Homo sapiens: one gene and its partners. The protein of the gene in region 3 interacts with the protein of the main gene of each other region in a pairwise test. Each region holds a gene or a part of one and is shown on either strand. Other genes may lie near its edges. The genes, in order: TRIM74, KRT27 and BEX2.

What was found.
Region 1: the proteins of BEX2 (region 3) and TRIM74 interact in binary tests that used the Homo sapiens proteins (3 or more experiments, as listed by UniProt).
Region 2: the proteins of BEX2 (region 3) and KRT27 interact in binary tests that used the Homo sapiens proteins (3 or more experiments, as listed by UniProt).

The regions. Positions count from the first base shown.
Region 1 is NC_000007.14:72,967,190-72,971,016, forward strand, and holds the start of TRIM74 (tripartite motif-containing protein 74), read right to left. Parts: upstream 2,278-3,827; 5' UTR 2,096-2,277; intron 1-2,095.
Region 2 is NC_000017.11:40,780,232-40,784,058, reverse strand, and holds the start of KRT27 (keratin, type I cytoskeletal 27), read left to right. Parts: upstream 1-1,508; 5' UTR 1,509-1,565; coding exon 1,566-2,009; intron 2,010-2,788; coding exon 2,789-2,871; intron 2,872-3,602; coding exon 3,603-3,759; intron 3,760-3,827.
Region 3 is NC_000023.11:103,308,891-103,312,490, reverse strand, and holds BEX2 (protein BEX2), read left to right. Parts: upstream 1-1,500; 5' UTR 1,501-1,631; exon of another isoform or gene 1,632-1,893; coding exon of another isoform or gene 1,894-1,908; intron 1,909-2,057; coding exon of another isoform or gene 2,058-2,133; intron 2,134-2,509; coding exon of another isoform or gene 2,510-2,514; coding exon 2,515-2,901; 3' UTR 2,902-3,145; downstream 3,146-3,600. UniProt on the Homo sapiens protein: Regulator of mitochondrial apoptosis and G1 cell cycle in breast cancer.

The DNA of each region.
Region 1 (3,827 bases), on a different chromosome or scaffold from region 3:
AGGTGCTGGGAAACAGTTCTTTCTGAATCTCAATCTCTTGCTCTTATATCCTTTTTTGGGGGGGGTGGGGGGCTGGGGGGCAGGGGAAGACAGTGTCTTGCTCTGTTGCCCAGGCTGGAGTGCAGTGGCGTGGTCACAGCTCACTGCAGCCTCCAACTCCTAGGCTCAAGCCATCCTCCTACCTTAGCTGCCTGAGTAGCTGGGACTACAGGCACGTGCCACCATGCCAAGCTAATTTTTAAAATTTTTTTTGTAGATACCGGGTCTTGCTTTGTTGCCCAGGCTGGTCTTCAACTTCTGGGCTCAAGCAATCCTCCCACCTTGGCCTCCCAAAGTGCTGGGATTACAGGCATGAGCCTTATTGCACGCAGTCTTCCTTCTCTCTCTCTTTTTTTCTAATACAAACTGGCAGATGATGGTTCGATCTCTCGAATTTTTTTTTTTATTTTATTGTTTTATTTACTTTAGTAGAGACAGGGGTCTCACTTTGTTGCCTGGGCTGGTTTTGAACTCCTGGCCTCAAGCAATCCTCCTACCTCAGCCTCCCAAAGTGCTGGGATTACAGGTGTGAGCCGCCGAACCTGGCCTCTTTTTTTTTTTTTTTTTAAAGATTTGAAGGTATCTTTATTTACTTATTTAGATTTTTTAAATCGAGGTATAACATATACAAGTGTGCAAATCTTAACCACACAGCTTGATAAACACTTGATGTATATACGTGCACTCTCAAGAGCAAGATGTACAGTGTTTCCAGAAAGCTCCCTCCTGCCTCCTTCCAGTCATAACTCCTAACAAGGACAGCCACTGTCCTTATTACCATGTTGTCATGTGGCCTGTTTTTGAATGTCACATAAACAGCATCATATAGAATGTACCCTTTTGTGTCTGGTTTCTTTCACTCAATAATATTAAATTGTGAGTTTTTTTTTAATGTGAAGTCTTTCAACGTTTAGAAATTCAATGACACTCTGTTATACAGGTTTTGTTTGTTTGTTTGTTTATTGAGACAGAGTTTTGCTCTTGTTGCCCAGGCTGGAGTGCAGTGGTGCAATCAGGCTCACTGCCACCTCCACCTCCCGGATTCAAGTGATTCTCCTGCCTCAGCCTCCCAAGTAGCTGAGGTTACAGGCGCCTGCCACCACACCGGCTAATTTTTTGTATTTTTAGTAGAGAGGCGGTTTCATCATGTGGGCCAGGCTGGTCTCAAACTCCTGACCTCGAGTGATCTACCCACTCTGGTCTCCCAAAGTGCTGGGATTACAGGTGTGAGCCACCGCGCCCAGCCTGTTACACAGTTAATGAATATTATGGTCATAATATACTGCTGTGGTTTGAATGTATCCTCCTAATTTCATGTGTTGGAAACGTAACCCCCAATGGGGCAGTATTGAAAGTTGGCTGTAGCCTACGCCTATAATCCCAGCACTTTGGGAGGTCAAGACTGGAGGATCGCTTGAAGCCAGGAGTTCAAGACCAGCCTAGGCAACAAAGCTACAAACCATCTTACCAGCAAATTAAAAACTAAAAAATAAATTAGCTGGGCCTGGTGGTGCACGTCTGTAATCCCAGCTACTTGGGAGGCCGAGGCAGGAGGATCTCTTGAGCCCAGGAGGTGGCGGCTGCAGTGAGCTGAGATCCATCACTGAACTCCAGCCTGGGCTCAGAGCGAGCCTCTGTCAATCGATCAATCAATCAATCAATCAGTGTCTTGTCTGGGCCTAAATTCTCTAGAATACAATGGAAGAGGGAAAGTGAAAGAAGGTGGAAGTAACCCACAGCTGGGAGCCCTGAACCCTGCTGGTGGCAGGTGGCTCTCGTGTCCTCACCAGGTTGCCCTGCAATCACATGCTGCATCCTTTTTCCTGAACCTGCCCCACGTGCCCCACCACGCAGCCACTCCGAGGGCTCCTTCAAGGGCGGCAGCCCTGTCACTCACGTGTTCCAAAAGTGCTTCCCCTGTGCCCTGACGGCCTCGCCATGTGTCCCATCATGCCCCACGCGCTCCCACTGTGCGCCCCACCTCGCACCCGTGCCCCATCATGCTCTGCGTGCTCGTTAGGTGCCCCATCATTTCCCGCTCGCTCTCATTACGTACCCAGCCTCCGGCCCCTGTAAGTGCCCCATCGTGCTCTCTGTCGCTCCAGTTAGATGCCCCATCCTGCCCCGCGAGCTCCAATTACGTGCCCCACCTAACCCCCCATGTCCGTGCCCCATCATGCCCCGCACGCTCTGGTTACATGCCCCGCCTGGCGCTCCCGCACATGCCCCATCATGCTCAGCGCGCTCCCATTACGTGCCGCCACCTCGCGCCCCTGCAAGTGCCCAATGTGCCCTGTGTGGTCCCGTTACGTGTCCCATCATGTTTTGTGCGCTCCGATTACGGGCCACACCTGGCAACTCACCGTGCGACCTCTGTAGTTCCAGAGCTCGCGAGGGCCAGGGCCGTTGGCGGCGGTTGGAACGAAACGATGAGTGCCTCCTCGTGGCCCCAGAATGGAATGCCGCCGTCGGTAGGGGTCTGCCGGGCATAAAGGGGCCTTCGGAACCCCACCAGAGTCACAGCCAGGAAGGGCAGCGGGGCGCACCAGGCCGAAGGCTCACGCCACAGGGAGGGCAGCTAGGACATGGGGGGAAGCGCGTTAAACCAGGGAGTCCTGGAAGGGGACGACGCCCCCGGCCAGGTGAGGGCCCAGACGTGGGGGCGTAGACGCTGAGGGGTGGCCGGGTGGGTCTGCGGCTCTGAGGCCTGGCTTTCATTCTCCATCAGTCCCTGTACGAGCGGTTAAGTCAGAGGATGCTGGACATCTCGGGGGACCGGGGCGTGCTGAAGGACGTCATCCGAGAAGGAGCTGGAGACCTAGTGGCGCCTGATGCTTCGGTGCTAGGTACGCCCTGGGGCGGTTTGTCCGCAGGATCCATGTCATCGCACTCTGTTGGGAAGAGAGAGGCCTCATTTTCAAAAAGCATTTAATGGGGTTGGAAATGCTTTGTTTGAAGTGGATTTTTGTTTTTGAAACGGGGTCTCGCTCAGTTCCCCAGGCTGGAGTGCAGTGGTGCGAACATAGCTCACTGCAGCCTCTGCTTCCTGGGCTCAAGTGATTCTCCAGCCTCAGCCTCCCAAATAAGAGATTTACAGGCGCAATCCACCATGCCCGGCTAATTTTTAATATTTTTGTAGAGATGGGGCACTTTCTATGTTGCCCAGGCTGGTCTCAGACTCCTGGTCCCAAGTGATCCTCCCACCTCAGCCTCCCCAGTAGCTGGGATTACAAGCGTGAGCCGCTGCTTCTGCCATGAATTAGTTTTTTTAAGAGGAAAGCTAAGGACCCCTATGTCCCCTTTGCGTGATGCTTCCATGAAGCTCTTGAACCTCTGAGCCGAAGGGCAGGCTCCTAAAATGCAGAGAGATTTATTCCTGTACCTCGTGGTGTCGGGCAGCTTAAGCTCATCTGATCGCATTGTTTCTGTGTGATCATGAGAGACTCGATATTATGGAGGCGTGGGTGTTTTGGGTCCATTTTCCTTACATTCTTTCCTCTATTCTAGTGAAATAGTATGGATACCTGGAACACTTGGACAGACCCTTCGATTCTAATTACTTTAGGAAAACTCCTCGGCTAATGAAACTTGGAGAGGGTAAATTCAGAGTAGGAGCTGGAGAAGAAGGGATTGTTTAGGAGCGAGATGAGGCACCATGCCTCAGGCTGGGAAGACTGCTCAGAGCGCAGGTTCTTTGAATTGACTTTGCTGAGGCTGGGTTTTGGTAAAACAGCCATGTTCTCTCCCCTTGAGACCTAGGCATTTGGGAGATGGCTTAATGGGCAAGG
Region 2 (3,827 bases), on a different chromosome or scaffold from region 3:
ATATTTTTGCCAACTTCATTTTCAATCTAGGTAATTGAAAGTGATGTCAATCATTCTTGGCAAATGCAAGATCTCAAATGATTTGTTATAATTTTTAGTCTGAAGAAGAAAACCAGGTGGAAAGAATAACATGAACAAAGGCAAAGAGATGGGAAAGAGGGAAGTAGTAAAACAGAACGGACAAGTCAGTGCGGGAAAATTTACATTAAGACAGTGAGGTGGCTCCTGCCTATAATCCCAGCACTTTGGGAGGCCAAGGTGGGAGGATCTGTCGAGCCCAGGCATTCAAGACCAGCCTGGACAACATGGCAAACCCCAACTCTACAAAAAAATACACAGATTAGCCAGGCATAGTGGCGTGTGCCTGTAGTCCCAGATATTTGGTAGGCTGAGGTGGGAGGATCACTTGAGCCTGGGAGGTTGAGGCTGCAGTGAGCTGTGATCATGTCACTGCACTCTGGCCTGGGTGACAAAACGAGACCCTGTCAAAAAAAAAAAAAAAAGAGAGAGAGTCGTAAATACCAAGCACAAAACTATAAGAAATGACAAAGGTAGGGCACAGGAGCTATAAGTGGAAGAGAAAAGGGGAGCAACATGAGATGTAGAAAATTTCTTAGAAAGCAACTGTCTGAAACTCGATCAGACTCATCAGACTGAGGTTGTCAGTATTGAATGTAACCAAGAGGGTATAGGGGAAAAAATAAAAGAAATGATGATTAGAGATGTGCAGTGATGTCTGAGAGGTTAATTTCAGTAAAATAGTGGGACCACAATTCAGAAATAAGAGGTGAAAAGTACAAGAAGCAATGCAGAAAAGTGCTATGGAAATGGACAGCCAATAGAAGGAATGCAGAAATATGAGCAATCTACAGACAGAAAGTGAATATAGAGACCACAGTCTAGACCCTTCACTTTACAGATGTGGAAACTGAGGCCCGAGGAGGTGACCAATTCCTTTACTTAACCTGGTTAGCAATGGAACTTAGACAGAAAACCAGTACAGATGAAATGGTAATTCAGGAAGGATAAGGATCAAAGGAACACTTTCTGTCTCCAAAGAAGATTCCCTTTAATGCCTCAGTTTTCCTTTAGGACCTCCCCTCCTTCTTCTGATACTATGATACTTCATTGCTGAAGAAAATGCAATGCTGATTTGAGCAAGGGAAAGAGAAATCTGTCTATCATACTTTTTTATTCTTATAGGTATTATGCATTCCTGAAGCCTGGAAGACAGGAAGAGTTACTCATACTAAATTTGAAATGCATCACTATAATAATCCTGATAATACTCCACCCTGTCCAACTCCAGAGATAACAAATAACCCCACAATAACTATCCACCTACAGAAATGGACACAGTATGGTAAAGCCATTCATTAAAAAAAAAAAAAAATCACCCCATTATGGATAATTCACAATGAGCTGGCAAACATCATTTGGCTATGAGCAAAGCTCATCAAGAAACACCCTAATAATGTGTATATAAAGGCAAACCAAGCTGTTTGAGTAGGCCGTTCACCATCAGAGCATCACCGCAGAAACAAAGGCTCCAGCCTCCGGACACCATGTCTGTGCGCTTTTCTTCTACCTCCAGGAGACTTGGCTCTTGCGGGGGCACTGGCTCTGTGAGGCTCTCTAGTGGGGGAGCAGGCTTTGGGGCTGGAAACACATGCGGTGTGCCAGGCATTGGAAGTGGCTTCTCTTGTGCTTTTGGGGGCAGCTCATCTGCAGGAGGCTATGGCGGAGGTCTGGGCGGGGGAAGTGCTTCCTGTGCTGCCTTCACAGGGAATGAGCACGGCCTCCTCTCTGGCAATGAGAAGGTGACCATGCAGAACCTCAACGACCGCTTGGCCTCCTACCTGGAGAATGTTCGAGCCCTAGAGGAGGCCAACGCTGACTTGGAGCAGAAGATCAAGGGGTGGTATGAGAAATTTGGACCTGGTTCTTGCCGTGGCCTTGATCATGATTACAGCAGATATTTCCCAATTATTGACGAACTTAAGAACCAGGTAAGAAACGCCATGGCGTGAGTGTTAGCACTCCTGAGAGTGTTTAGCCACTCACAGATGCACAAATGTATAAGCTATCACAATAACAGGGCTTTGCCCTCAGCTTCTAAATTTTAGGAGTTCATTTTCAATATTAAAAATAATTTCTAATAAATTCTAATATTTGAACATGGCACGTCCATCATGTAGTATTAGGTATATGCTTTTGGTAATATTAAAATATCAAAAGCTGTCCAGTGTCTCCAGTTATATATTTATAGGCTTTCCCATAGAAAGAGCTTTTTTTAATGCTTGGGGTGGGAAATACAAGAGACCATACCCAGCCAGGCACAGTGGTTCAGCCTGTAATCCCAGCACTTTGGGAGGCCAAGGCAGGTGGATCACTTGAGATTAGGGGTTCAAGACCAGCCTGGCCAACATGGTGAAACCCTGTTTCTACTAAAACTACAAAAGTTAGCCGAGCGTGGTGGCACATGCCTGTAATCCCAGCTACTTGGGAGGCTGAGGCAGGAGAATCACTTGAATCTGGGAGGTGGAGGTTGCAGTGAGCCAAGATCGTGCCACTGCACTCCAGCCTGGGCAACAGAGCGAGACTCGGTCTCAAAATAAAAGACAGAGAGAGAGACCATACTTAAATTACCCATCTTCAAAAGAATGGTCTGATTATTAGAGACAGATGCCAGAAATATTACTATAATTTCATGGGTAATTTTATTTCAAGGAACTTTGAAATGCATCTTAAATATTTCCTCAATCTTAACTAACTTTTCATTTGTCAGATAATTTCTGCAACTACCAGTAATGCCCATGTTGTCCTGCAAAATGATAATGCAAGACTAACAGCTGATGACTTCAGACTAAAGTAAGTAGAGCTGAAGATAAATGGGAAAAAAAAGTTGTCTAAGCATTTTTTCTCCTTTATTCTTCTAAGTTATTTGACGTTGTCTCAAGCCTTTGTTCTTGTTTATTCATGTATTTGTTTTAAACAAAATGCCTGTTAGAATGAGTAACTAGCTGAGCAACAAATTTTACTTGGGAAATTTCGGGACTAACAAAAACGAGTGTCAAAGTCATATGAGAAAGAATTTTGGCTATTCCCATTCTCTTGCTTCAATGAAATGTATTTATTGCATGATAGATGACCTAACTGAAATGTGTTTTTTTAATTAATTAATTTATTTATTTATTTATTTATTTTTTGGAGACGGAGTCTCGCTCTGTCGCCCAGGCTGGAGTGCAGTGGCGCAATCTCGGCTCACTGCAAGCTCCGCCTCCTAGGTTCACGCCATTCTCCCGCCTCAGCCTCCCGAGTAGCTGGGACTACAGGCGCCCACCACTGCGCCCGGCTAATTTTTTGTATTTTTTAATAGAGACGGGGTTTCACCGTGATCTCGATCTCCTGACCTCGTGATCCGCCCGCCTCTGCCTCCCAAAGTGCTGGGATTACAGGCGTGAGCCACCGCGCCCGGCCTGAAGTTTTAAGTATTATCTTAGTAGTTTTACCTCAAAGCTTAGTCTGAGTTGTATGATGATCTAAAAAGTGATGTGCCATGTCTAATGACTAATGATGAAACTTCCAAATACTTTTCTAAGGTTTGAAAACGAGCTAGCGCTTCACCAGAGCGTGGAGGCGGACATCAATGGTTTGCGAAGAGTCCTGGATGAGCTGACCTTGTGCAGAACGGACCTGGAGATCCAGCTGGAAACTCTCAGTGAGGAGCTCGCTTACCTCAAGAAGAATCATGAGGAGGTAGAAGCTCCACCCGGCTGGCTCTCACAATCGCCTCCCTACCAAATTTTAAAACTAATTTCAGATGA
Region 3 (3,600 bases):
GAAGTTCTTTATATATGCTCTGAATTCAAAACCATTGTCAGATACAAATACTGTGAATATTTACTCCCAGCTTCTCACTTCATTTTCTTAACCATGTGTTTTAAATGGTAGAAGTTTTTAATTTGGATAAATCCAATTTCTTATTTTTTTCTTTTGTGATCTGTTCTTTTTGTGTCCTAAGGAATTGTTTTCTCAAAGATTGTAAAGTTTTTCTGTATGTTTTATTCTAGAAGTTTTCTAATTTGAGCTTTTACATTTAGGCCTAGGATCCATTTTGAATTAATTTGTGTATAGTATAAATAAAAGGCAAGGCTCCTTTTTTTCCTTTAAGAATTCTGTTATTTCAGCACCATTAGTTTAAAAGACTATACTTTCCATATAGAATTACTTTGATATCTTTGTCAAAAACTAATTAACAACATACGTATGGGTCTATTTCTGGAGTCTATTCTGTTCTATTGATCTACAGGTCTATGTTTACTACTACACTAACTTTATTATTACACCTTAAGTCTTGAAATAATATAATGTAACTCTCAAGATTTGTAGGATATTTTAAAAAAATTATTTGTCTATTCTAGGTCCTTTGCATTTTCAAATAAATTTATGAGTACGTTTGTAATATTTATCTTGTAGCTGCAACCTTCTTAAAATCAATTCTTACTCCTATAGTAGGTTTACCGTAGATGTCTCTGGATTTCCTAAATACATGATTACTTGATCTTTAAATAAAGACATACTTATCGTTTGAACCAGAAATTTGTGAAAAAGGCCTTTTTTTTCCTTTTAGTTATGAAAACCCAACAAGGTTCTGTAGCACTACAACTCACTAGCTCATTTCATAGAAGGGCCTCATGTGTCCAGGGGCCCCTCAAAAGGGGAGCCATCAGCTGCCCTGTCCTTTTCCAAGTTCTAAAAAAGCAGCTGCGTGTAGAGTCTATATTTATATAATGACTTAACAGGACAGGTGGTTGGGACATTTTGCCCAACTTTAATCCCGTCTTTCAAGTAAAAATAACTTTTTTTCCTTTTTAAAGAAGTATATTAATTTTTTGTGTTTTACAAAAGAAATAATACAGAAAAGGTATTAAGAATGAGAAAAGCCTACTCTCTTGTGCTCCTTTCCTGATACACCTCTTCCACTCATTTTAGTGGAGAGAAAACGGAGAATATTGGTAGGAGGACAGAAGGAGGTAGACAGGCAGAAGGAGGTGAATCCTGGGAGCCAAGGGCAGAGAGAGGCAAGTCCCCAGAGAAGTGGGAATGGCCAACAGCTCCCTGAGAAGATACCTTCCGTCCTTCCTGGGCAAGCAGGGGAAGTCTCAAGAATATACAGAGAAGGAAGAGTGGCAGAGCCCAGGCTGGGGATGTTAAAAGGGACTCCCGGTGAGGATGGGGGCGGGCCCGAAAGCACCACCTGACTCCGGGCTGCAGGAGGGGGCGTGGGACGGGGGCGGAGCCTCTGGCGATGACAACAGCCACACGTGATCGGCCAACACTGAGTCTTACCTCGTTGTGGCGTCAGAACCGCCGTCGCTCGCTCCCTTCTCGGCAGTGGTACCTGTTCCCGGTGTCCCTGAGGACGTGCGGGCCAGGTACGGCCCCGAAAGTAGGAAGCGGAGGGGGAGCAGGTAAGGGACCCGGAGGGGGTCCCTGGGGTTGGTGTGGGGGAGCAGCCCCGGCCTGCGGATGCCCCATCCCCGGGCAGCAGCGCGGAGACGCAGCCGGTCCACGATGCAGCCCCGGGGCCCCGCCGCGGGACCGCGAGCCTTGTGTGAGCGGAGGGGTGCCCGGCCCCGCGGGAGCCGGCGATCCTGAGGCTACGACCTTTCGGAAGCACCTGCCTCCGTCACCAGCGCAAGCTTTTCCAACACCCCTGCTCCGCCCTTCTTGATGCAGAAAATGGTGGTCAGCTTGGGGGGCTGGGCGGCTGAGGCGGGGGGCGAGAGCGGCTAGGAGGGCCCGGGCCCGGCGTGGGGAAGGGGCCGGGTGGCGGCGGGTCCTCTCTAGCGTTCCGCTGCAGCAGCCCCCACTCTTCCCACCCCGGCCGTCTGCAGGTTTGCGGGGCCAAGTGTTGCGGCGACGCACCTCACGTCGAGAATCGGGAGGAGGAGACTGCAAGGATAGGCCCAGGTCAGTGCGAGGGACGGTGGTGGGGAGGGGGTCAGAACATGAGGAAAGCCCAGTCTGAGACCCCAATCCGTGCCTTCACCCCCACACTTAGCAATCCCCCACCCCCACCCCTTCTTCGTCCTCCATTTTGGTGCCTGCAGAGGCCTGGAGATGGATCTGCAGAGAAGATGGTGGGCTTTGCGGGAGAGAAGGGCACAGACTGGCTCCCCTCGCCCCCCCGAGGGTACATGGGGCCTCTCTGGTGGAAAAAAAATGAAATTTAAAAAAGGCCTTTGAAATCCAGGGCTCTGAATTTTGAAAGGTGGGTAGTCGGGCCTCTGTCCTCGGTGCTGATCAGTTCACCAAGAATTGAGTCCATTTTCTCTCTGTCTCCTAGGAGTAATGGAGTCCAAAGAGGAACGAGCGTTAAACAATCTCATCGTGGAAAATGTCAACCAGGAAAATGATGAAAAAGATGAAAAGGAGCAAGTTGCTAATAAAGGGGAGCCCTTGGCCCTACCTTTGAATGTTAGTGAATACTGTGTGCCTAGAGGAAACCGTAGGCGGTTCCGCGTTAGGCAGCCCATCCTGCAGTATAGATGGGACATAATGCATAGGCTTGGAGAGCCACAGGCAAGGATGAGAGAGGAGAATATGGAAAGGATTGGGGAGGAGGTGAGACAGCTGATGGAAAAGCTGAGGGAAAAGCAGTTGAGTCATAGTTTGCGGGCAGTCAGCACTGATCCCCCTCACCATGACCATCACGATGAGTTTTGCCTTATGCCCTGAATCCTGATGGTTTCCCTGAAGTTAATAGGGAGACCCCTGCTTCCTAAACTTACACATTTGTGGTGTACCTTTGTCGTAAACGTTTTGATGTTACCTATTTCTTGTGGGTCTCCTATTACCAGCTTCTAAATGAATGTTGTTTTTGACCCAGTTTGTAAGTTTCTGTCAGCAGGAGAGTTTTACCTATTGCATGGAAAGATGCTCATTATATATTGTGAAGTTAATAAAACAGTTTTAAAAAGCATTCTCTGCATTCTTTTTTACTTTAAATCTTAAACATGCACCTAAACAGTCATATATATATATATATATATATATATATATATATATATATATACACACACACACATATATATAGTAAATAGTGTTTATCTCTGTGGTAGAATTAAGAGGGAGTTTATTCTTGCTTACCCATAATTTCTTATTTTTCAAAATGGAACACGTATTACTGATAAAAAGCAATGTGACCACCTTATAAAAGCGATGTGAGCACTTACTAAACACTTGTGACAGAATCTCAATTTTAGCTTGCCTCTGGGTTCTCTTTTTAGAAATGTAAGAGACACATCTCTTTGAAGATAATAATATTTATCAGTAAGATGAAGACAATCACCTCCCAGGCTTGTTGTATGGACCAGATAAGGTAATGAGGTTGTGAGCTTTCTCCCAAGTTCTTGTTCTTACTGACATGCATGACCC